Linked DNA regions of Homo sapiens. The protein of the gene in region 1 interacts with the protein of each later gene in a biochemical or structural test. Each region holds a gene or a part of one and is shown in the gene's direction. Other genes may lie near its edges.

Region 1 (7,576 bases):
CTTTACAAGATGAAAAGCTGATTCAGCCTAATGTTGGATCAGCAACATTCTTGACTCGGGAGAGGGGTGTATGGTCTGAAGTCCACGTATGTCAGAGCTGGAGAGGAGTTGAGGGGGAAGTAGCGTGCAGTAGTCAAGCACTTGGGCTCTGGTGTCCCTTAAACCTGGATTTGAATCTCTGATTTACCATATACTTGGTGCATAAGCTTGAGCAAATTATTGATATGAACTTCATTTTCCACATTTATAAAATGGGAATAATAACAGTTCCAGATTTATAAGAGTTAAGTCAGACAATATATGCAAAGAGCTTAGCAGGTGCTTGGCACATAGTAGGTGTTTAATAAATGCTGGCTCTTATTACTACTATTCTGCTGTCCAACCTATTTTATAAATGAAAAGGTGTAGGGTCAGGTACAATGGCTCATGCTTGTAATACTAGCACATTGGGAGGCCAAGGCAGGAGGATTGCTTGAGGCCAGGAGTTCAAGACCAGCCTGGGCAACCTAGCAAGACCTTGCCTCTATTAACACAATTAAAAAGAAAGAAAGAAAAGGTGTAGTTCAGAGGGGCAGGGATGGGCCCAAAGTCACTCAGTGACTCAATAGCAGAGTGGGACTCACACCCAGGTCTATCACACCTGGCTGCGTTGTGCTTCTCTCCCTTCCTATAAAGCCCTTGGCAGGTGGCAGGAAGACCAGCCTTAGTCCTAGTGGTCTTCCTTTCTAGGTCAGAGTCATCCTTGCTTCAGAGGCTCCTGTTGCCCCAGGATGCTTTTTTTTTTTTTTTTTTTTTTTTTTGCCTTTTGAGGTGGAGTTTCACTCTTGTTGCCCAGGCTGGAGTGCAATGGTGCTATCTCAGCTCACTGCAACCTCCGCCTCCTGAGTTCAAGCAGTTCTGCCTCAGCTTCCCAAGTAGCTGGGATTACAGGCGTGAGCCACCAAGCCTGGCTAATTTTGTATTTTTAGTAGAGACGGGGTTTCACTATGTTGGTCAGCCTGGTCACCGAACTCCTGACCTCAGGTGATCCACCCACCTCTGCCTCCCAAAGTGTTGGGATTACAGGTGTGAGCCACTGCACCCAGCCATGTGCTCTTATCCTTAGATATAAAACCTACCAAGTTTTCTTTCTGGGAGTGATTCTGGCTCAGGGTGTCCCCACAGAGACCTGGAAGTGGCCCTCAGGAGGGATCTCTCTTCCAGAGCTTCAGCCCAGCCCCAACCAGACTTCCACTTCCTGAACTGAAAGCCACATGGGAACACCAGCCAAAAACTGGGAAGAGTTCCACTGGTTCATCCTCATCAGAATCATCATTTTAGTTTATGAATAAAAATACAAAGCTTCTGCTAATTTTAGTCCCATAATGCCTGGGAGCTATAGCAACCAATCCTATAAAAATATACATCTGTCCGGATGGCAAAACAGATATGTGGAGAGTCCACCAGCACCCTGTATTCAGCAGCCAAAAGCACTTGGCTTTTGAACCAGGGTGAGAGGCCTTGGGGGGTCTTTATTTATTTATTTAGAGACGGAGTCTTGCTCTGTCTCCAAGGCTAGAGTGCAATGGTGCCATCTCGGCTCACTGCAACCTCCGCCTCTTGGGTTCAAGCGATTCTCCTGCCTCAGCCTCCCATGTAGCTGGGATTACAGGCACGTGCCATGATGCCCAACTAATTTCTTTTGTATTTCTAGTAGAGACAGGGTTTTGCCATGTTGGCCAGCCTGGTGTCGAACTCCTGACCGCAGGTGATCTACCTGCCTCAGCCTCCCAAAGGGCTGGAATTACAGGAGTGAGCCACCATGCCTGGCCTTATTATTATTATTATTATTTTATTATTATTACAGACAGCATCTTGCTCTGTCACCGAGGCTAGTCTCAGGCTTCTGGCCTTAAGCAATCCTCCTGCTTCAGCCTCAGAGTAGCTGGGACTCCAGGAACATACTACTGCACCCGGCCCTTGGGGGTCATTTGGAGAAGACTCCTTCTTGGGTGTTTGTGGATTTTTCTGCAGAGAAAGTTCATTGCTTCCTTTAGGTTCTCAAAAGGACCAAACACCCTAACTTTTATATTCCACTTTAGTGGTTTGAGGGTCTCTTGGGTGTGGGGCAGTGTTCCAGGCTGGAACCCTAGTAAAAGACAACCCTCTCTTTTTTCAGATGGGCAAGTCGGAAGTTCATATATTTATTGAATAAAATATTGCAAGCCAGCTTTGTGTGGGGCACTGGTCAACATGCTGGGAACAAAGCAGTAAACAGACATGTGAAGTCCCTGCTCTCACCAAGCTTCTGTCTAGTTGGGGAAACAAATGGTTTCTGAGAATGACAGGTGATGGGGAGGAAATAAAACAGTGTAAGGCGATGAACTGTGCCTGTGAGAGAGGCAAGTAGATTGAGTGGCCCTAAGGAGGTGACATTAGAATAGGCACAGGAAAATCAGGTGGAAGAGTGTCTCTGGCAGAGGTAAGAGCAAATGCAAAGATACTGGGCATGGTGGCTCAGACTTGTAATCCCAACACTTAGAGAGGCCAAGGCGGGCGGATCACTTGTGGTCAGGAGTTCGAGACCAGTCTGGCCAACATGGTGAAACCCTGTCTCTACTAAAAATACAAAAATTAGCCTGGTGTGGTGGTGCATGCCTGTAATCCCAGCTTCTTGAGAGGCTGAGGCAGCAGAATCACTTGAACCCAGGAGGTGGAGGTTGCAGTGAGTTGAGATTGCGCCACAGCCCTCCAGCCTGGGCAACAAAGTGAGAGTCTGTCTCAAAAAAAAAAAAAAAATCCTGGGGTGGGAGAAGCTTTGGGGTAGTTGAAGGACTGGAAGGAAGTTGGCATGGCTGGAGCAGCGTGGGCACAGAGGACAGTGGTAGGAGGAGAGAATGGCAAGAGAGACAGGGGCCACAGCGGATGGAAGTGTATCATGAGGGTGTTCTCTGCCTTCTTCCTTTCCATGGTATTCAAACCCAACCCATGCTTCCAGGTCCACCTCTTTCAGGAATCCACCAATCTGAAGCCCTGGGATAAGCCTTAGAGTCTGTACCACTCATGTAAGTGGGTGTATGTGTAAGGCACAACCTTTCAGCAAGATCCAAAGCTCCTTGAATAGTGAGTTATCTCGATTGATTGTTCACAGTCACAGATTGAATTCCTTGTACTTTTTTTCCCTTCTCAGTTCTGCACTTAACTCGTCTAAAAAAATTAAAAAAGAATTTAAGAAACCACAAAGCTAAGCTGGGTGCGGTGGCTCACGCCTGTAATCCTAGCACTTTGGGAAGCCAAGGCATTCGGATTGCCCAAGCTCAGGAGTTCGAGACCAGCCTGGGCAACATGTTGAAACCCCATTTCTACTAAAAATACAATAAATTAGCTGGGTGTTGTGGCATGTGCGCCTGTAATCCCAGCTACTCTGGAGGCTGAGGCGCGATAATTGCTTGAACCCGGGAGGCAGAGGTTGCAGTGAGCCGAAATCATACCACTGCACTCCAGCCTGGGCGACAGAGTGAGTGAGACTCTGTCTCAAAACAAAACAAAACAAACAAACAAAAAAACCGGAAACCACAAAACTTTTTGAGGACAAGGACCAGGTATTTATTAATTCTCATACCTCCCAGAGTGTTAGGCACAAAATAAACATTCAACCAAGACCTGTTGCACTGAGCAGTTCATATATAACAGGAGTGACCCAAGTTGAAACGTAGAATCAGCCCTCTCATACCACTTTTTGCCAGGTGATCATAGGCAAGTTACTTAGCATCTATGTTTCCTTATTATTAAAATGGTCATAATTACAATGCCTAAGATAAGGGGTTGCTGTGAAGATTATTAAATCCTCAGTAAACTTTGGCTATTGTTACTCCTATGATTATCATCAATATCATCAATTACCTTATCTGTTCAATACTGGTGGCACAGGTCCACCAGCTAGATGTCTAATCCCTTATGTGTCTATTAGTGGTACAAGTGGAGTTTGAGTGGGATTTTTTTTTTTAAGACCAGTTCCAAATCATCAAGGATGATACCACTAGTAGCAGCTTGTCTTGTCTGTACAGTGGTAAGTCCTGGCCTTGCCTTTGTGGCAAATACAACCCCCTTGAATTGCTTGGCCCTTCTCAGCATTGCCTAATATTAGGGAGGACTCCTGTAAAGCTCACTGGTTAGAAGATCAAGACACTTGGGCCTGGTTCTGCCCCTGGGGGCCATTGGGTAATTCCTTGCAGTCTCCAGGCCTCACTTGCCCTCTGAACAAGAAAGAGGCTGTTCTGGGTCATCCCTCCAGGCCTGTCCAGCCCTGGCACTCTGTGAGTCGGTTTAGGCAGCAGCCCCGGAACAGATGAGGCAGGCAGGGTTGGGACGTTTGGTCAGGACAGCCCACCGCAAAAAGAGGAGGAAAGAAATGAAAGACAGAGACAGCTTTGGCTATGGGAGAAGGAGGAGGCCGGGGGAAGGAGGAGACAGGAGGAGGAGGGACCACGGGGTGGAGGGGAGATAGACCCAGCCCAGAGCTCTGAGTGGTTTCCTGTTGCCTGTCTCTAAACCCCTCCACATTCCCGCGGTCCTTCAGACTGCCCGGAGAGCGCGCTCTGCCTGCCGCCTGCCTGCCTGCCACTGAGGTATGTGTGACCCCCGCCCAGCCTTTCCCTTCTATAGTTGCACCAACCCCGACACCCCCGTTCACGCCGTCAGCTCGTGTGCAAGGGAGGGAAGCTCTGCTGAGGATGCGCCTCTCCTCCCGGCTCCATCACGGCTCCCCTTAAGAGCATGGCCCTCGGTCCTGTCTGCCTGTTGCTTTTCAGAAGGTGGACTCACTGTGTAACTTTGTCTTCCCTTACAGGTTTACAGAAAATAATCTCACTATGTCTTCGGGGGAGCATTTTCTCACTCTCTGTTTTTCTCTGTGTCTGTCTCTGGTTTCAGAGGCTGCCTGCCTGTCCTCTTTGCTCCCTTTGCAAATGTGGCAGCCTCCTCCTTTCCTGGGAATCTGATCCCATCACAGCTGCCACAGGGACCTGGCCAGCAACCGGAGTCTGTCCTCCAGATCTCGGTCAGGGGTTCTGTTTTCCAAAAGGGACTTTGCACGAACAATCAGTTGATCTCTGAAAGGCAAAGGGGGAGGCTTCACCATTAATCCACACCTCTGGGAAGCCTTCTGTTTTCCTCTAATTCTCCTCACTCCCAAACACCACCTTCCGTCCCCCCAATACACAAATTTCAGCACCATTCTGCCTGAAATGGCACCATCACAACCTCAGTCTTGGGTTAGGTGTTGTTCCTGTCCTGAGTTCCTTGGGATGGTAAACACAGGCAGTAGCCCTTAGTTTATCTAGATCTGAAAACCCAGACATCAGATATCGTCAACCAAGACATGGGTGTAATGGGAGGTGGAGTGTGCTGGGGGAGATATTCTCAGAAGGGGGAAAGGGGGAAGGGAAGAGGGAGAGAATTCCAGGGTCCCCTTCCGTAATCCACCCAAGACTAGTGTCCAGCCTGTCAGGGTGTCAGTTCTTCTTCAGACAAATCCACTACCTTTCTTCGCCGCCACTGGCTCCGTGAACTGGCTGTCAAGTGGACTTCCTTAGGGAAAGGGACTCCAAGGACTCCAAGGGAAGGGGGGCACTGGGATGAGTTATGTCTTCCAGGATTCCCAGTCTGCCCAAAAGGGAACAGAGAGGCATGCATTTTCCTCAGGAAAGGACAGCATTTTTTTCATTAGAGAAAATGTTTTCTCTAGTAATGCTTTAGAGTTAAATTTCTATACGCCCCAAGTGCTGGTGGTTTAGTGAGAAGCAAAGCAGAAGTAGGACACAGGCTTCGGGCATGCATTTTATGTGTGATCTTAGGTAAGTGTCTCCCCTGGATTTAGTGCCCCATCTGTAATGAAAGAAGGCTGAAACTGAAGGCTCTTTGGGGTGCTTTGTGTCCTCTAAAATATTCAAAGGAAGATTTCTTAACCAGGGTCTATGGAGTGGTCTTTGAATGGGCCTCAAGCCATCTCTAAGCCCCTAAAAATTGTATGCACTGTGTGTGTGTGTGTGTGTGTGTGTGTGTGTGTGTGAGAGAGAGAGGGAGAGAGAGAGAGAGAGAGGATGAATATGGGTGGTCACAGCTTTCAGCTTTAAGATATTCTCAAATGGATTAGAGGGCATGACGTGGGGATGGAGTGAGGACTGGTAACAAATGTGTGTATTTGCTGGAGGATGAAGCCTTCTGAAAAGGGAGTGGTTGAGGAAAGAGAGAGTTAACTCTCAGCTATCAGCTGCCACATCGACATAGCCTAGAGCAAAGAGGGGGAGGGAGGAGAAGAAGGGGGTTGCCTGGAGAAGGAATCAACTTTTGAAACTTTCTCCAAGTCCCACCCACCAGAAGGCTCTTCTCTGCCTGACTCACTCTCCGAGGAATGCGAGTTGCCACGGTAACCTTTTTTTCAGGGTCTCTGCCTGCTGGCTGGAGGGGACCCTTGAAACCCTCTAAGAACATCAGTCTGAACGTACCCCACCCCCAAATTCAAGGCCTGCAGCAAATTCTAGGCCCTGCCCTTGTGATCTCTCAGGATTCCGGGGAAGCCTTGGGCCATGATAATCTCCTTGCAAGGGTGTTTGAAGACCTGGGTTTTAGCTCTGGCTGTGCCCTGAAGGTACCATTTGACCTTGAACTAATACTTCTTTCTGGGCCCCATTCCCTCTACAGTTAAAGAACAGTAACAGCAGCCACCTCTAGGGGGTAGATAGTGTGTAGAAGAAATGGGATAATGCACAGGGAAGCACTTTGCGAATTGTGGCATTCCCTCATAATGCAAAGGGTTTTAGAACTGATGGATTAAAGGCATCCAAAGACCTAGTGAAATCATTCTCAGCTTTTTTTTTTTTTTTTTTTCCTGGCAGCTCCATCATCTTGGGGTTTGTATAGAACTTTCCTTTACTAGAAGTACTGACAGGAAAAATTTTAAAATCATAATATTGTTTATCTTCATTTTGATTTGGGGAACTTCTTGTGTATTTCCCAAGACTGTTGTGCCCTCTATGTAGGAAAAGCATTGGCCAAGGGTGAAAAAAAAAAAAAAAAGTGTGTTCTAACTCCCAGTGCCTGACATTGGGAAAGACACTTCCTCTCTTGAGGCTGCAGTTTCCCAAACTGTTAAATAGAGTTTCTAAGCTAGATGATTTCCCAGGCACCCTTCTAACTCTGAAGTCCTATAAACCTAAATCCCAGATACCGCTTTTATTCAAAGGAATAGCTTGCCTGCATTTTTAACACCGCCTTACTGCACCCCCAGTTGAAAAGAAAACAAGAAAAGATGGGCTAGGGGATCTTGAGTTGCATAACCATCATGCTGTAATCCTTATCCATCTGTAGAGATTTGTCAATCAACAGTGTGGCTGGGGTTTGCTATTCATGAGAGCAGCTTTCCTTGCTGAAAACAAGCTATAAATAAGAAAGAATGGTGAAGGAAAGGAAAGAGCTGAGGATGTGAGGTAAACAGTAGAATATTTGGCTTTTGAAGTTGTTTATGTAGGTAGATAAATATGCAGAGATAAACAGGGACAGGTACAAACCCATAGGGATGAAGAGTATAAACATCGAT
Region 2 (7,028 bases), on another chromosome or scaffold:
TGGGGGTTATCCCAAATAGGTTCACAGAAGAACCAGAAATAAAACCTGCCTTTCTAGACTGTAAGTCTTGTGATTTTCATCTAAATGGTTGTCTCTATACAGCAACTCATCTCTAGAACTGAAAATAAGCTTAAATCCCTCCTCCATCCCCAATAATTCAAGCTGCATTTCAGAGAAAACCAGGACTTTGGAATCAGACAGATCAACTTTGAATTCTTGATCTGCTTCTTCATAGCTATTTACACTTAGGCAAGTTTTGTTTTGTTTTGTTTTACGTTGCCACTCAGTTTTCTCATCTGTAAAATAGGGATAATAACACCTTCCTCAAATGGTTTTATTAGGACTAAAAGAGAGAATGTGTGGAAAGATGTTAGTGGAATTCCTGGCAGATAGTTCACATGGACAAAATGGTATTAACTACAAAAATTTTTACAGAGAAAACGGTAACTGACAAAAGCAGGTGTTTGGAATGAATTAAGACCATGGCAGCCTTTTGAGGCCTTTATATTTCTCCTGACTGTGCAATAAAAATATTTTGGCTCTCTAAGACTTGGCTGTCACAGTAGCAATGGTAATATTAGCTACTGTGCCAGAAGCAGCCTATCAATAGAGAAATTGAAAATCTGACCACACAAATGCTGCAGCACCCAGCTGAAATGCATTTGGATGACAATCTCAGATGGGAATCGAGAGCATCTCCTTCTGCCTTGCTAATAGCAAGCTGATTTTTAGAATATAGTCTAAGTGCTTCTTTTCCATCCTCCCCAGATTCTCACCTGCTACACACCCCTCAGAGGGACTGGAGGAGAACTACTGCAGGAATCCAGACAACGATCCGCAGGGGCCCTGGTGCTATACTACTGATCCAGAAAAGAGATATGACTACTGCGACATTCTTGAGTGTGAAGGTCAGGAGTGGTTCTAGAAAATGTTTTCATTTCTGCCCTTCACCTGTAAAATAATTTGTTGTAAAGCCCCTTCCCACAGGGATGTTATTAATAATTGAGTAACGTATTCACCTCTCGGAAAGAAGCAAAACCCCAGAATTAACCTGAATTTTTTTTTTTTCTGAGACAGAGTTTTGCTCTCGTTGCCCAGGCTAGAGTGCAACCGTGCAATCTCGGCTCACCACAACCTCCGCCTCCGGGTTCAAGAGATTCTGCTACCTCAGCCTCCCAAGTAGCTGGGATTACAGGCATGTGCCACCATGCCTGGCTAATTTTATATTTTTAGTAGAGACAGGGTTTCTCCACGTAGGTCAGGCTGGTCTTGAACTCTCGACCTCAGGTGATCCGCCTGCCTCAGCCTCTCAAAGTGCTGGGATTACAGGCATGAGCCACCATGCCCAGCAGACCTGAATTATTTTTATTAAAATGTTACATCAACATGTACAAATATAAAACTACATCTAAACTCTAAGTACAAACTTCTTATGCTTACAACTCTTACACAGTGTTAACCCCAAGACAGGTTTGCAATTAAATAGTTAAAATAAAACAACAAAATCAATAAAAATCAAATAAACAATATATATTTAATGTGGTAGACTTTGCTGTTTTGCTGAAGCTAAGCAAGGAACCAGTTTTTAAATCAGCAATCCATTATTTGAATGGACTGAGCAATTTAATAGTGCACCTCAAAGGTCAATGCTAAAAAATTTTAAAAAAATCCTACTGAAAAAACTGTCATCGTTTCACATTTCTGGCTACATTAGTGCAAAAGGGAATAAATAAAGGTGAGATTTGTGTGACAGTGTGGATATGGTACTGTGTGACAACTCAGTTCTCCCATCACTTCCACCTGTTCGAATCACGGGGATCCTTTATTTGTACACCATGTTATAGGTATTTGCCCTTAAGCACCACCAATGCATCACTGTTATATTAAGTCTGCCCGTTTTCCTTAGTACTCCATAAAATTTAAGTCACATATTACTCTGCCTCACCATGTTACTTCAATAATTCTGAATCAAAGTTTAAGTTTGTGAATAATTTTGCAAAAAAGAGCCAATCATGCTTCTCAACAACATAAAAAGAGAAGCGCTGTCACTTCAGGTGAATATTGTTCTCCCTGAGGCCATGAGCATAAACAAAAACTCCAGACTAAAACCCTGAGACGGTGCCAGGTCATTCAGCAGTCAGCGGAATGATCAGAATAATTTCATACAAAGTTTTAAAGATCATTATTGAAATGAAGATGCCAAATATTGAAAACTCCTAATGGAGAACGTAGACTCCTGGGAATATATGCACCCTTGGCTCCCCACTGGCCTGTGCATCCCGGTCTAAGGACATGGCATCATGGAAATTCTGAACTTGGTCATGACTACAATAGTTGAGGGAGTATTGACTAAAATATGTGAATGTTACGGTTTAAAAGGAAAATGACATTTGGATTATGCTAGAAAATCCTGAGTCCTTATTGCCAATTTTATTGCCAAGTGCCTGTTGTGAATTACATCGGAATGAGAGGCAAGTCGCACTTAAGTGAGTAGGATTCTGGTTTTTACTCTCTATTTTGCTTCATCCATTTCAGTTTTCTTCTTCCTCTCTGTCCTTCCTTCCCACTCTGTCCAGAGGAATGTATGCATTGCAGTGGAGAAAACTATGACGGCAAAATTTCCAAGACCATGTCTGGACTGGAATGCCAGGCCTGGGACTCTCAGAGCCCACACGCTCATGGATACATTCCTTCCAAGTAAGTCTCACTGGGAAAAACATTCCATGTTTAATTAAGGCTCTGCAGCTCTATCAGACATTTGCTGTCATTTAGATATTTTAGCATTCCTCAAGAAGTGAACGCCTGATGTTTTTAATTTCAAAGCTAACCTCCTCCCACAATATTGCAAGTGAAATACGCATTCTTGCTGCTCAAAATATGGTCCACGGGTCAGCAGCAGGGATGTTTTCTGAGAGTTTGTTAGAAATCCAGAATGTCACACCCTCTGAATCTGATTTGAATAATAACCAGATCCTCAGCTGATGTGCACACACATTCAAACACTAATGTCAGTAATGAATACATTAACATCTGTCTTCAGAAATGCACACACACATGTTGCTGGTGTATTTTCCAAATATTTTCCTTTTCTCTTTACTCCTTGTCTTTCTTTTCCCTTTGTACCAATGAGATTCAAGTCTCCTAACCTTTGACCTATGAGCAGACGTCATGGATTTTTGAATCCCTGATGTTTTATGTATATTTACATCAATGTGTTTTTCTGGAATGAGGATTCGTAACTTCCATCAGATTCTCTAAGGGGACCACGAATTTAAAATAAGAATAAGCTTCTTGCTCTAGAAAGTCATGATGGTTCCTAGAATAAGGTTTCGTGAGTATTCTATTTCACATTAATTGTGCTGGAAAACACCTCCCATTCCACAGTCGCTTCTGGTCTTCCTCTTCATTCTATGATGACTACAGGGCCATACCAGGGCTTTCAAGAATGCAGAAGTGAGGCTGAGCCACAGATTCCACGGTGGAAAGCAGCTCTATTGAATTTGTACACCTCCCATTCCAAATAGCTAGCTTAAAACACAGCAGCTGCCATTTTCCTTCAAAGGAGAAATACAGGAAAGACCTAAGGGTCCAAAACTGGGTAAAGGCACTTCCAGGAAACCAGAAGGAGAAGAGGATTGCTTAAGCCGCTGCTGGCTCCTCTTTCCATCCTGGTAAGCATTTACAATCAGAGAGGGAATGAATAAACGCAGAGGGCCACCAGGCATGGAGTGCATCCAACAGCCCTGGCCACTGGGCCCCACTGAGGAAGGATCCAGCCCCATACTGCATGGTGAGACCCTTGCAAGAGCACAGCTTCTCCTCTTGGTTTTTCTAAGCTTCAAGGCTGGTGGGAGCAGAGCCTGGTAGACCAGAAGGACCATTCCTTTAAGCTATGAAGATGCACATTTCTTGGCTCTGTTAGGTACTAGATGAGTATCTTTAGGCAGGGAGCACTTTACATTTTAAAGACTGCTATCATTTGTGGTTGAATAACTGGAATTTGCTTACATCAATTTTCCAGATGGCCAAAATGATAAGGTCACTGATTCTGTTGAGTGATTTTTACACATGTAAACTGTTAGAAAAACAGTGCTTGGCAGCCGGGCATGGTGGCACATGCCTGTAGTCCTAGTTACCTAAAGGGCTGAAGCGGGAGGATTGCTTGAGTGAGTTCAAGGAGTTCAAGGCAAGCCTGGGCAATAAGTGGGACCCTGTCTCTAAAAACAAACAAAAAAAAGAAAGTCCTTGGAATACAGGGCCAACCTTGTTTCCTTGTTGCCATCTCTGAACACAGCCTTCATCTGATTACCTCCTCCATGCCCGACTGTGCCTAGCACACAGCAGGTGCTCAATGTTTGCTCTTGAAAAAGAGTCTTATCCATGAATGTAAATGTTCAGTGCTACTAAAATCTTTCTTGTCCATTCAGATTTCCAAACAAGAACCTGAAGAAGAATTACTGTCGTAACCCCGATAGGGAGCTGCGGCCTTGGTGTTTCACCACCGACCCCAACAAGCGCTGGGAACTTTGTGACATCCCCCGCTGCAGTGAGTATGATGCACACCCAGATTCCAGGATTTGGACCTGCCCTGTTCTTGAAATCAAAAGAAAACATGTGTCAGTGCCTGAGTGCAGCCTCTGAAAAGTGACCTACAAGTCCTATGGGATGTTATTGGTCTTTATTTTATTGCTGGTTTAAAACAGTTATGGTTATTGGTTACTGTGGGTGATTGATCAGAGCGTCCATTTATCATGTTTTTCTTTCTTTGCAACTGAAACTTCTGCCTCAGGAGTTCACTGAAATGTAGGCTTTAGGTGTTGTTCATCCTATTCTCTCTGTGCTAAAGGGAAATCAGACCCATGCTCTCTGACACATGGATTTCATTTTCAACCAGAGTTCTAATAGTTGTTTTGTAAACAAAGAGTGTCTTTGTTTACAATGTTCAGGTCTGTGGGTGTCCAGTTTTTCCACCTTGGGGAGCAGAGGGTGAGTGGTGGGGGTGGGGAAGAGTTCAAGAGGAGAAGATGAAATGGCAGACCTAGTAGAAATGATGTGGAGTAAACAATTTTATCATATTTTCCTCTCTGAGAATTTGAAGCAAAGGATTACACACTAAGAGAAATACAGGCATGAAAGGTTAAAAAGGATTCAGTGAGGGTTGGCCTCCCCTCCTTTCCTCTGACATGTGTCCTTTGAAAGCGGAAGTTCCTCAGGCATTCTCCCTTTTTATGAATATTAATTTCTCTTTTTTTTTCAGTTTCTCTTTTTGTCATCTTTTTTCCTCAAGAATATCTTGATTTCTGGATGCACACACTTTTCCTTGGAGGTGTTTTTTGCCTTCTTTCCATGGACTCTTTCCCTGTTGTTTGGCTTTTATGGCATGTTGGGTGCCATTCAGTCATGTCTACTCAGTGAATAATTTATTCTTCAGGAAAGAGAGTGGACCTTTGGTGTATGTGAGAATTCGGGGTGTGAGGTGACACGTGTTGATACTTACCAGGTAGGAAGAACTGAGCAAAGAGAACATAGAAAGAAGCACCTACCCAAGGGTCTTTCTCTGAAGGAGTTCCTTGTGAAAGGGTCTCACAGGCATAGATGCTACTAAATTGATTTCATCTGAAAACATGAAACAATTCTCAAGTGCCAAATTCCAAGAGAGGCTGAGCAAAAGCCAAGACAGGCCAGAACACCCTGCAGCCATCCTCCTTAACATCCATCTGTGCATTCTCTATTTTAAAATTATTCATTGTAGGGCTGGGCACGGTGGCTCACGCCTGTAATCCCAGCACTTCCGGAGGCCGAGGTGGGCGGATCACGAGGTCAGGAGTTCAAGACCAACCTGGCCAATATGATGAAACCCCACCTCTACTAAAAATACAAAAAAATTAGCCAGTTGTGGTGACACGCACCTGTAGTCTGAGCTACTCGGGAGGCTGAGGCAGGAGAATGACTTGAACCCAGGAGGCAGAGGTTGCAGTGAGCTGAGATCGTGCCACTGACTCCAGCCTGGGCGACAGAGCGAGACTCCGTCTCAAAAAATATATATATTCATTGTAACTTATTTTGCCCATTCAAGCAACACCTCCACCATCTTCTGGTCCCACCTACCAGTGTCTGAAGGGAACAGGTGAAAACTATCGCGGGAATGTGGCTGTTACCGTGTCCGGGCACACCTGTCAGCACTGGAGTGCACAGACCCCTCACACACATAACAGGACACCAGAAAACTTCCCCTGCAAGTAAGTCCCCTCCGGTCTCATTCTGCTGCTATGGAATGTGAAATCCCATTGACTTTGCCTTAGTTTTAGTTACTGTAGGAACGCAGGATAAAGTATTCTGGAAGAAAAACTGATCTAGTCATAAGTAAAGGAAATGAACTTTAGCACGTTTTTTCCCGTAACGGTTGTTCTCAAAGCGTGGTTCCCTAGACTTTTTTCTTTTTGGAAAGCTAAACTCACAATCACTTCTTTTTCAGAAATTTGGATGAAAACTACTGCCGCAATCCTGACGGAAAAAGGGCCCCATGGTGCCATACAACCAACAGCCAAGTGCGGTGGGAGTACTGTAAGATACCGTCCTGTGACTCCTCCCCAGTATCCACGGAACAATTGGCTCCCACAGGTAAGCAAGGGTATGGGAGCTTACTGAGGGCCCAAGTTTTCTCCTTATTTTTGTATACCAGTGGCATCATCACAATATACAGTAGCTTTGTAAGTTTAATGCTATTGTGGTCAGAAAGCCTGCCCTTATGATTTCAGTTTTTTTAGATTTGTTGAGGTTTGTTTTATGGTTCAGAATATAGCCATCTTGGTGAATGTTTCATGTGCTCTTGAAAAGAATGTGTCTTCTGCGGTTGTTGGGTGGGGTGTTCCCTCAAGGTCATTTAGGTGAAGTTGGTTGCTGGTGTTCTTCTGTATCCTTACTGATTGTCTGTCTCCTCCTTCATTGACTACTGTGGATGAATGGTGATGTGTCCAACTTTAACTGTAAATTAGTCTATTTCTCTTTTAGATCGTAACTCTTTTGTA
Region 3 (7,028 bases), on another chromosome or scaffold:
GGGAGCAGGGCTGGGGTACCTGAGTGGGGTGCATTTGGGGTGTGTGGGAAGGAGAGGGAAAGAAAGATGGACAGTGGGACTCTCCCCTAGCAGGGTCTGGTGTTCCGTAGGCTAGAGTGCCCCTCTGCTCTGCGAGTGCTGGGCGGGAGGGGAGTTGGTGAGAGCTGGAGACCCCCAGGAAGGGCTGGCAGAAGCCTTTCCTTTTGGGTGCTGTCAGGTCCGCATGTCTTGGCGTGTTGACCTTCACAGCTTCTGGCGAGGGGAGGAATGATCTGATGCGGGTGGGGAGGGTTAGAGGAGGCCTCAGGCCTAAGGTGGTGCAGGGGGCCCCCTAGGGGCTGGGCAGTGCCAAGGCATAAAAGCCTTCCCTGGTCCCTGGTGGCATTTGAAGGTGCCCAGGTGAGAGGGGCTTGGCACCTCCTCACCCTGGGAGGGAGAAGAAACCAGGGAACAGGTAGGAGTGGGAGACAGGTGAGGCTTTGGAAATCTATTGAGGCTCTGGAGAGATTTGTGTAGAGAGGAAAATGTGGTTCTCCCCCAGGGTCTCCTCCTGGGTTTTTACCCTCTAAGCAACCTGTGGGCATGCTGGGTTATTCCTAAGGACTAGAAGAGCTTGGATGGGGGAGGGTGGTTGGTGCCCTTCGGTCCTCGGCACCCCCCTCCGTCTCCAACACCAGCTCACCCTGGTATTTGTCATGTCAGCAGGAGAAGGTCACCATGTTGTTTTTCTCGCCCCTAGTCCTTCCTTCCTGCCCCAGTCCAAATTTGTCCTCCTATTTGACCTTAATACTTACCATGGCTTTGGACCAGGGAACTAGGGGGATAGTGAGAGCAGGGAGAGGGAAGTGTGGGGAAGGTACAGGGGACCTCGACAGTGAAGCATTCTGGGGTTTTCCTCCTGCATTTCGAGCTCCCCAGCCCCCAACATCTGGTTAGTCTTTAACTTCCTCGGGTTCATAACCATAGCAGTCCAGGAGTGGTGGGCATATTCTGTGCCCGTGGGGACCCCCGGTTGTGTCCTGTTCGACTCAGAAGACTTGGAGAAGCCAGAGGCTGTTGGTGGGAGGGAAGTGAGGAGGGAGGAGGGGCTGGGTGGCTGGGCCTGTGCACCCCAGCCCCTGCCCATGCCCATGCCTTGCTCTCTTTCTGTCCTCAGTGGTCCCAGGCTGCACCCATGGCAGAAGGAGGAGGGCAGAATCATCACGAAGGTGAGTCCCCCTGGCTGTTGGATGGGGTTCCCTGTCCTCTCAGGGGATGGGTGGATGGCCTAATTCCTTTTTCTTCAGAACTGTGGGGAGGAAGGGGAAGGGGCACAGGAATATAAGGATCAAGAAAGAAAGAGCTGGGCACCACGAGGTTCACCCTCAGTTTCGTGAGGACTCTCCGCTGTTCAGGTCTCTGCTAGAAGTAGGACTTGTTGCCTTTTTCTTCTGCTCTTTCCAGTAAAATTTTATTTGGAGAAGGAGTCGTGCGCACAGAGCAGGAAGACAGTGTTCAGGGATCCTAGGTGTTGGGGGAAGTGTCCCTTGTTTCCCCTAGCTCCCAGGGGAGAGTGGACATTTAGTGTCATTTCCTATATAGACATGTCCCATTTGTGGGAACTGTGACCCTTCCTGTGTGAGCTGGAGGCACAGAGGGCTCAGCCTAATGGGATCTCTCCTCCCTTCCCTGGTTTGCATTCCTTTGGGGGTGGAGAAAACCCCATTTGACTATGTTCGGGTGCTGTGAACTTCCCTCCCAGGCCAGCAGAGGGCTGGCTGTAGCTCCCAGGCGCCCCGCCCCCCTGCCCAACCCCGAGTCCGCCTGCCTTTTGTTCCGTTGTGGTTTGGATCCTCCCATTTCTCTGGGGACACCCTGGCTCTCCCCACCACTGACTGTGGCCTGTGCTCTCCACCTCTGGGGAGGGAAGGCCCTGGGGTCTTCCTTCCCGCGAGTTTCCCTGACCTAAATCTGGCGTGGCTGGGTAGTGGCCAGCAGTGGTGATGCCCAGCCTGTTCTGCCTCCTCCTTCCCCACCCCAGGAGCCCTTTCCTTGGCCTAGGACCTGGCTTCTCAGCCACTGACCGGCCCCCTGCTTCCAGTGCGCCACTTACCCCTTCCAGCTTCCCAGTGGTCTCTGGTCTGGGAGAGGCAGGACAAAGGTCTTTGTTTGCTGGAGAAAAGGTTGTCTGCGATAAATAAGGAAAACCACGAAAGCCTGGTTGTTGGAGTGTACGTGTGTGCTCCCCCAGGCAGTGGAGGCCAGCCCTCCTTGGAGGGGCGGCTGCCTGATGAAGGATGCGGGTGAGGTTCCCCGCCTCCACCTCCCATGGGACTTGGGGATTCATTCCAAGGGGAAGCTTTTTGGGGGAATTCCTACCCCAGGTCTTTTTACCCTCAGTTACCAACCCCTTGCCCAGGCCAGACCTTCCTGCTATCCCCTCCTGGGCCACAAGCCTGGCCCTCCTCTGTCCCAATTGTGATGAAGGGGCAGTTCAAAACTTCTTGATTAGTCATCTTCTCCCCTATCGACTTGGCTTTAAAAAATGACCTTTTCAGACTTCTAGTCTCGTTCACTCTTTTTGATGATGCTTTGCCGTAACCCTTCGTGGGTAGAGAAGGATTCTGTGCCCATTGGTGGTCTGGATAAAAGAAATAGAGACCTCACAGGAAGCAGTGGACTGGCCTGTTTCCCCACTGTTCTTTCTGTTTTCACACCTGTGGCCTTCTCCCCACCTTCTTCCCAATCAACCTATTGTGTACATAGCCCCCCTCATTGTCCTTTATTCTTCTGGAAAGCAGACCTTGGAGGGAGGAGTGAGGGGGAGGCTCAGCTGTGGTCTCTGGGGGGTGGGGGTTGGGAGCTGGGGTGGAAGTCCACGAAGCATACACTTAAGATGCTTTGGTGAAGTTCTAAACTTCATATTACCCAGGCTGAAAAAAGAGCACTTGTTCCTAGGGCTGGAAATGGAAGCCAAAACACCACCTTTTTCAGCCTGTTTCAGCATCTTTAGAGATCAGCCCAACCCACTTACACAGTTGAGCAGAGTTGGAGGCCTAGAGAGGGGAGGGACTGGCCCAAGGTCATACCAACTCATGGCCAGAGCCTGGGCCTCCTCACTGGCCAGGTGTTATTTCTTCCCTCTGGGTAGGGAACCTATTTCAGGGACAGGATTGCTATGTGGTAGTGGTGGTGGGGTGCGATAGGCGTGGCAGGCTGGGCCACAATTTGGAGTAGTCATGCCAGAGTCCTGCATTTATTTATTCTCAAGGGCCCCGCCTCTGTGGCCCAGAATTACCCCTTCATGCTCCAGTGCACCCCAGGCTTCGTGGCCAGCCTGGGAAACTGTCTCTACCCTGGTCTCCCTTCAGATCAGCTTCTAGAAATGTTTCGTGGCTACAGTGGCAGCACTGTTTTTTCCATGATGCAAGCAGTTTGCCCTCTTGGGCGGGGTTATCAGTGGCTGGCAGGGCTGGCACAGCGTGTCCGCCCACTGCCACCTGTGGGTTCCAGGAGGGCCCAGCCCCTGTGCTGATGCCCACCACCTTCTCAGCTCATGTCTGGGGAAGAGGACTGGCAGGGGGAAAGGTGCCTCCTCCTGAAAGGTGCCTCCTCTGTTTTTGCCTAATATAGGCTTGGGAACACTTTGATGTCAGCTAATTCTGACTCCTTTACTTACTAGCTGTGCGGCCTTGGGGCAACTTACTTAGCCTCTTTGAGCCTCCTGTTCCCCATCTGTAAAATGGAATCTCAATAGTGTCTAATAGTACCATGTGGAGAAACTTGTGTGAAATGATAGCTGTGGACTACTGTACACAGTACTCAGGATGTAGTAAGTGCTCAATAAACAGCTGTTGGTATGGTTGACGTTATGGTAGTGGTTGTGGGGAGGACGTAGGAAACTGGAGACTAGCTTGGCAAAGCTGGCTCTTCCTCCTTTTAGGGAAAGCTTAGAGCATCCCCATGGGGTATACCCATACTCAGACTGTCCTCTGGCATCGAGGTTGGCCCAGGATTCAGTTCAGCTGTCACAGTGAGGTGGCGGGATCAGATGTGGCAGGCCATGTCCCTTGGAACTTGAGTACATCGTGTGATCTCTGGAATGAAAACAGGCCTTCACCAGTGTTGATGGTGGAAAGCTTAGGGAAGTGCTTCAAACACAGTAGGAGGGACTTACGTTAGATTTTGGAAGGACTTGCCTGATTCGGAAGCTCCAAAGAGTGGCATTACAGAGCTGGGTGGAGAGAGGGGCTAGCCATCTTTTGTGTCGCCCACCGGGCTCATGTGTCATCGCCTCTCATGCAGTGGTGAAGTTCATGGATGTCTATCAGCGCAGCTACTGCCATCCAATCGAGACCCTGGTGGACATCTTCCAGGAGTACCCTGATGAGATCGAGTACATCTTCAAGCCATCCTGTGTGCCCCTGATGCGATGCGGGGGCTGCTGCAATGACGAGGGCCTGGAGTGTGTGCCCACTGAGGAGTCCAACATCACCATGCAGGTGGGCATCTTTGGGAAGTGGGGCAAGGGGGGGATAGGGAGGGGGGTAACACTTTGGGAACAGGTGGTCCCAGGTCGTTTCCTGGCTAGATTTGCCTTGTCTGGCTCCTGCCCCTGAGTTGCACAGGGGAGGTATGGTGGGGTCTTGCCTTCTGTGGAGAAGATGCTTCATTCCCAGCCCAGGTTCCCAGCAAGCCCCAACCATCTCCTTCTCCCTGATGGTTGCCCATGGGCTCAGGAGGGGACAGATGGATGCCTGTGTCAGGAGCCCCTCTCTCCCTCTCTTGGAGAGAGTCCTGAGTGCCCCCCCTTCTTGGGGGCTTTGTTTGGGAAGCTGGATGAGCCTGGTCCATGGAGAGTTTAAAAAGTCTTTTGGTGTTACCTGGTAATGGGGCACATCTCAGCCCAGATAGGGTGGGAGGGAGCTGTGAAACACAGGGAGGGGGTTGCTTTCGGGTATCTACTAGGAGTCAGGGTGAAGCCTAGAGAGGATGAAAGAAGGGGAGGGGATGGGGAGTGGTAAGAACCTAGGATTTGAATTCCCAGCCTGGCCAACCCTTGCAGCCATGTCTTGGCCTCAAGTGGAACAAGGGCTCCTTGAGGCCAGCAGGGTTGGGGGAGTTGGGGTGGGCCTGAGCCTCTTTCCTGCTAGAGCTCTTGGTCCTCCCTGCCTCCACCACCCATCCCTGCTCTGCAGAACCCCTGGGTGCTGAGTGGCAGGAGCCCCAGGGTTGTCCCATCTGGGTATGGCTGGCTGGGTCACTAACCTCTGTGATCTGCTTCCTTCCTTTCCAGATTATGCGGATCAAACCTCACCAAGGCCAGCACATAGGAGAGATGAGCTTCCTACAGCACAACAAATGTGAATGCAGGTGAGGATGTAGTCACGGATTCATTATCAGCAAGTGGCTGCAGGGTGCCTGATCTGTGCCAGGGTTAAGCATGCTGTACTTTTTGGCCCCCGTCCAGCTTCCCGCTATGTGACCTTTGGCATTTTACTTCAATGTGCCTCAGTTTCTACATCTGTAAAATGGGCACAATAGTAGTATACTTCATAGCATTGTTATAATGATTAAACAAGTTATATATGAAAAGATTAAAACAGTGTTGCTCCATAATAAATGCTGTTTTTACTGTGATTATTATTGTTGTTATCCCTATCATTATCATCACCATCTTAACCCTTCCCTGTTTTGCTCTTTTCTCTCTCCCTACCCATTGCAGACCAAAGAAAGATAGAGCAAGACAAGAAAAGTAAGTGGCCCTGACTTTAGCACTTCTCCCTCTCCATGGCCGGTTGTCTTGGTTTGGGGCTCTTGGCTACCTCTGTTGGGGGCTCCCATAGCCTCCCTGGGTCAGGGACTTGGTCTTGTGGGGGACTTGTGGTGGCAGCAACAATGGGATGGAGCCAACTCCAGGATGATGGCTCTAGGGCTAGTGAGAAAACATAGCCAGGAGCCTGGCACTTCCTTTGGAAGGGACAATGCCTTCTGGGTCTCCAGATCATTCCTGACCAGGACTTGCTGTTTCGGTGTGTCAGGGGGCACTGTGGACACTGGCTCACTGGCTTGCTCTAGGACACCCACAGTGGGGAGAGGGAGTGGGTGGCAGAGAGGCCAGCTTTTGTGTGTCAGAGGAAATGGCCTCTTTTGGTGGCTGCTGTGACGGTGCAGTTGGATGCGAGGCCGGCTGGAGGGTGGTTTCTCAGTGCATGCCCTCCTGTAGGCGGCAGGCGGCAGACACACAGCCCTCTTGGCCAGGGAGAAAAAGTTGAATGTTGGTCATTTTCAGAGGCTTGTGAGTGCTCCGTGTTAAGGGGCAGGTAGGATGGGGTGGGGGACAAGGTCTGGCGGCAGTAACCCTTCAAGACAGGGTGGGCGGCTGGCATCAGCAAGAGCTTGCAGGGAAAGAGAGACTGAGAGAGAGCACCTGTGCCCTGCCCTTTCCCCCACACCATCTTGTCTGCCTCCAGTGCTGTGCGGACATTGAAGCCCCCACCAGGCCTCAACCCCTTGCCTCTTCCCTCAGCTCCCAGCTTCCAGAGCGAGGGGATGCGGAAACCTTCCTTCCACCCTTTGGTGCTTTCTCCTAAGGGGGACAGACTTGCCCTCTCTGGTCCCTTCTCCCCCTCCTTTCTTCCCTGTGACAGACATCCTGAGGTGTGTTCTCTTGGGCTTGGCAGGCATGGAGAGCTCTGGTTCTCTTGAAGGGGACAGGCTACAGCCTGCCCCCCTTCCTGTTTCCCCAAATGACTGCTCTGCCATGGGGAGAGTAGGGGGCTCGCCTGGGCTCGGAAGAGTGTCTGGTGAGATGGTGTAGCAGGCTTTGACAGGCTGGGGAGAGAACTCCCTGCCAAGTACCGCCCAAGCCTCTCCTCCCCAGACCTCCTTAACTCCCACCCCATCCTGCTGCCTGCCCAGGGCTCCAGGACACCCAGCCCTGCCTCCCAGTCCAGGTCGTGCTGAGCAGGCTGGTGTTGCTCTTGGTTCCGTGCCAGCTCCCAAGGTAGCCGCTTCCCCCACACCGGGATTCCCAGAGGTTCTGTCGC

Evidence for each region. The genes of interacting proteins can lie anywhere in the genome.
Region 2: the proteins of SPARC (region 1) and PLG form a complex in vitro, tested with the Homo sapiens proteins (one study listed by BioGRID).
Region 3: the proteins of SPARC (region 1) and VEGFA form a complex in vitro, tested with the Homo sapiens proteins (2 studies listed by BioGRID, with this or other methods).

The regions. Positions count from the first base shown.
Region 1 is NC_000005.10:151,683,896-151,691,471, reverse strand, and holds the start of SPARC (SPARC isoform 1 precursor), read left to right. Parts: upstream 1-4,556; 5' UTR 4,557-4,607; exon of another isoform or gene 4,608-5,090; intron 5,091-5,520; exon of another isoform or gene 5,521-5,643; intron 5,644-7,576.
Region 2 is NC_000006.12:160,712,218-160,719,245, forward strand, and holds part of PLG (plasminogen isoform 1 precursor), read left to right. Parts: intron 1-768; coding exon 769-908; intron 909-2,576; coding exon 2,577-2,697; intron 2,698-4,427; coding exon 4,428-4,546; intron 4,547-6,076; coding exon 6,077-6,239; intron 6,240-6,475; coding exon 6,476-6,621; intron 6,622-7,028. UniProt on the Homo sapiens protein: Plasmin dissolves the fibrin of blood clots and acts as a proteolytic factor in a variety of other processes including embryonic development, tissue remodeling, tumor invasion, and inflammation. In ovulation, weakens the walls of the Graafian follicle.
Region 3 is NC_000006.12:43,773,185-43,780,212, forward strand, and holds part of VEGFA (vascular endothelial growth factor A, long form), read left to right. Parts: intron 1-1,156; coding exon 1,157-1,208; intron 1,209-4,284; coding exon 4,285-4,481; intron 4,482-5,275; coding exon 5,276-5,352; intron 5,353-5,704; coding exon 5,705-5,734; intron 5,735-7,028.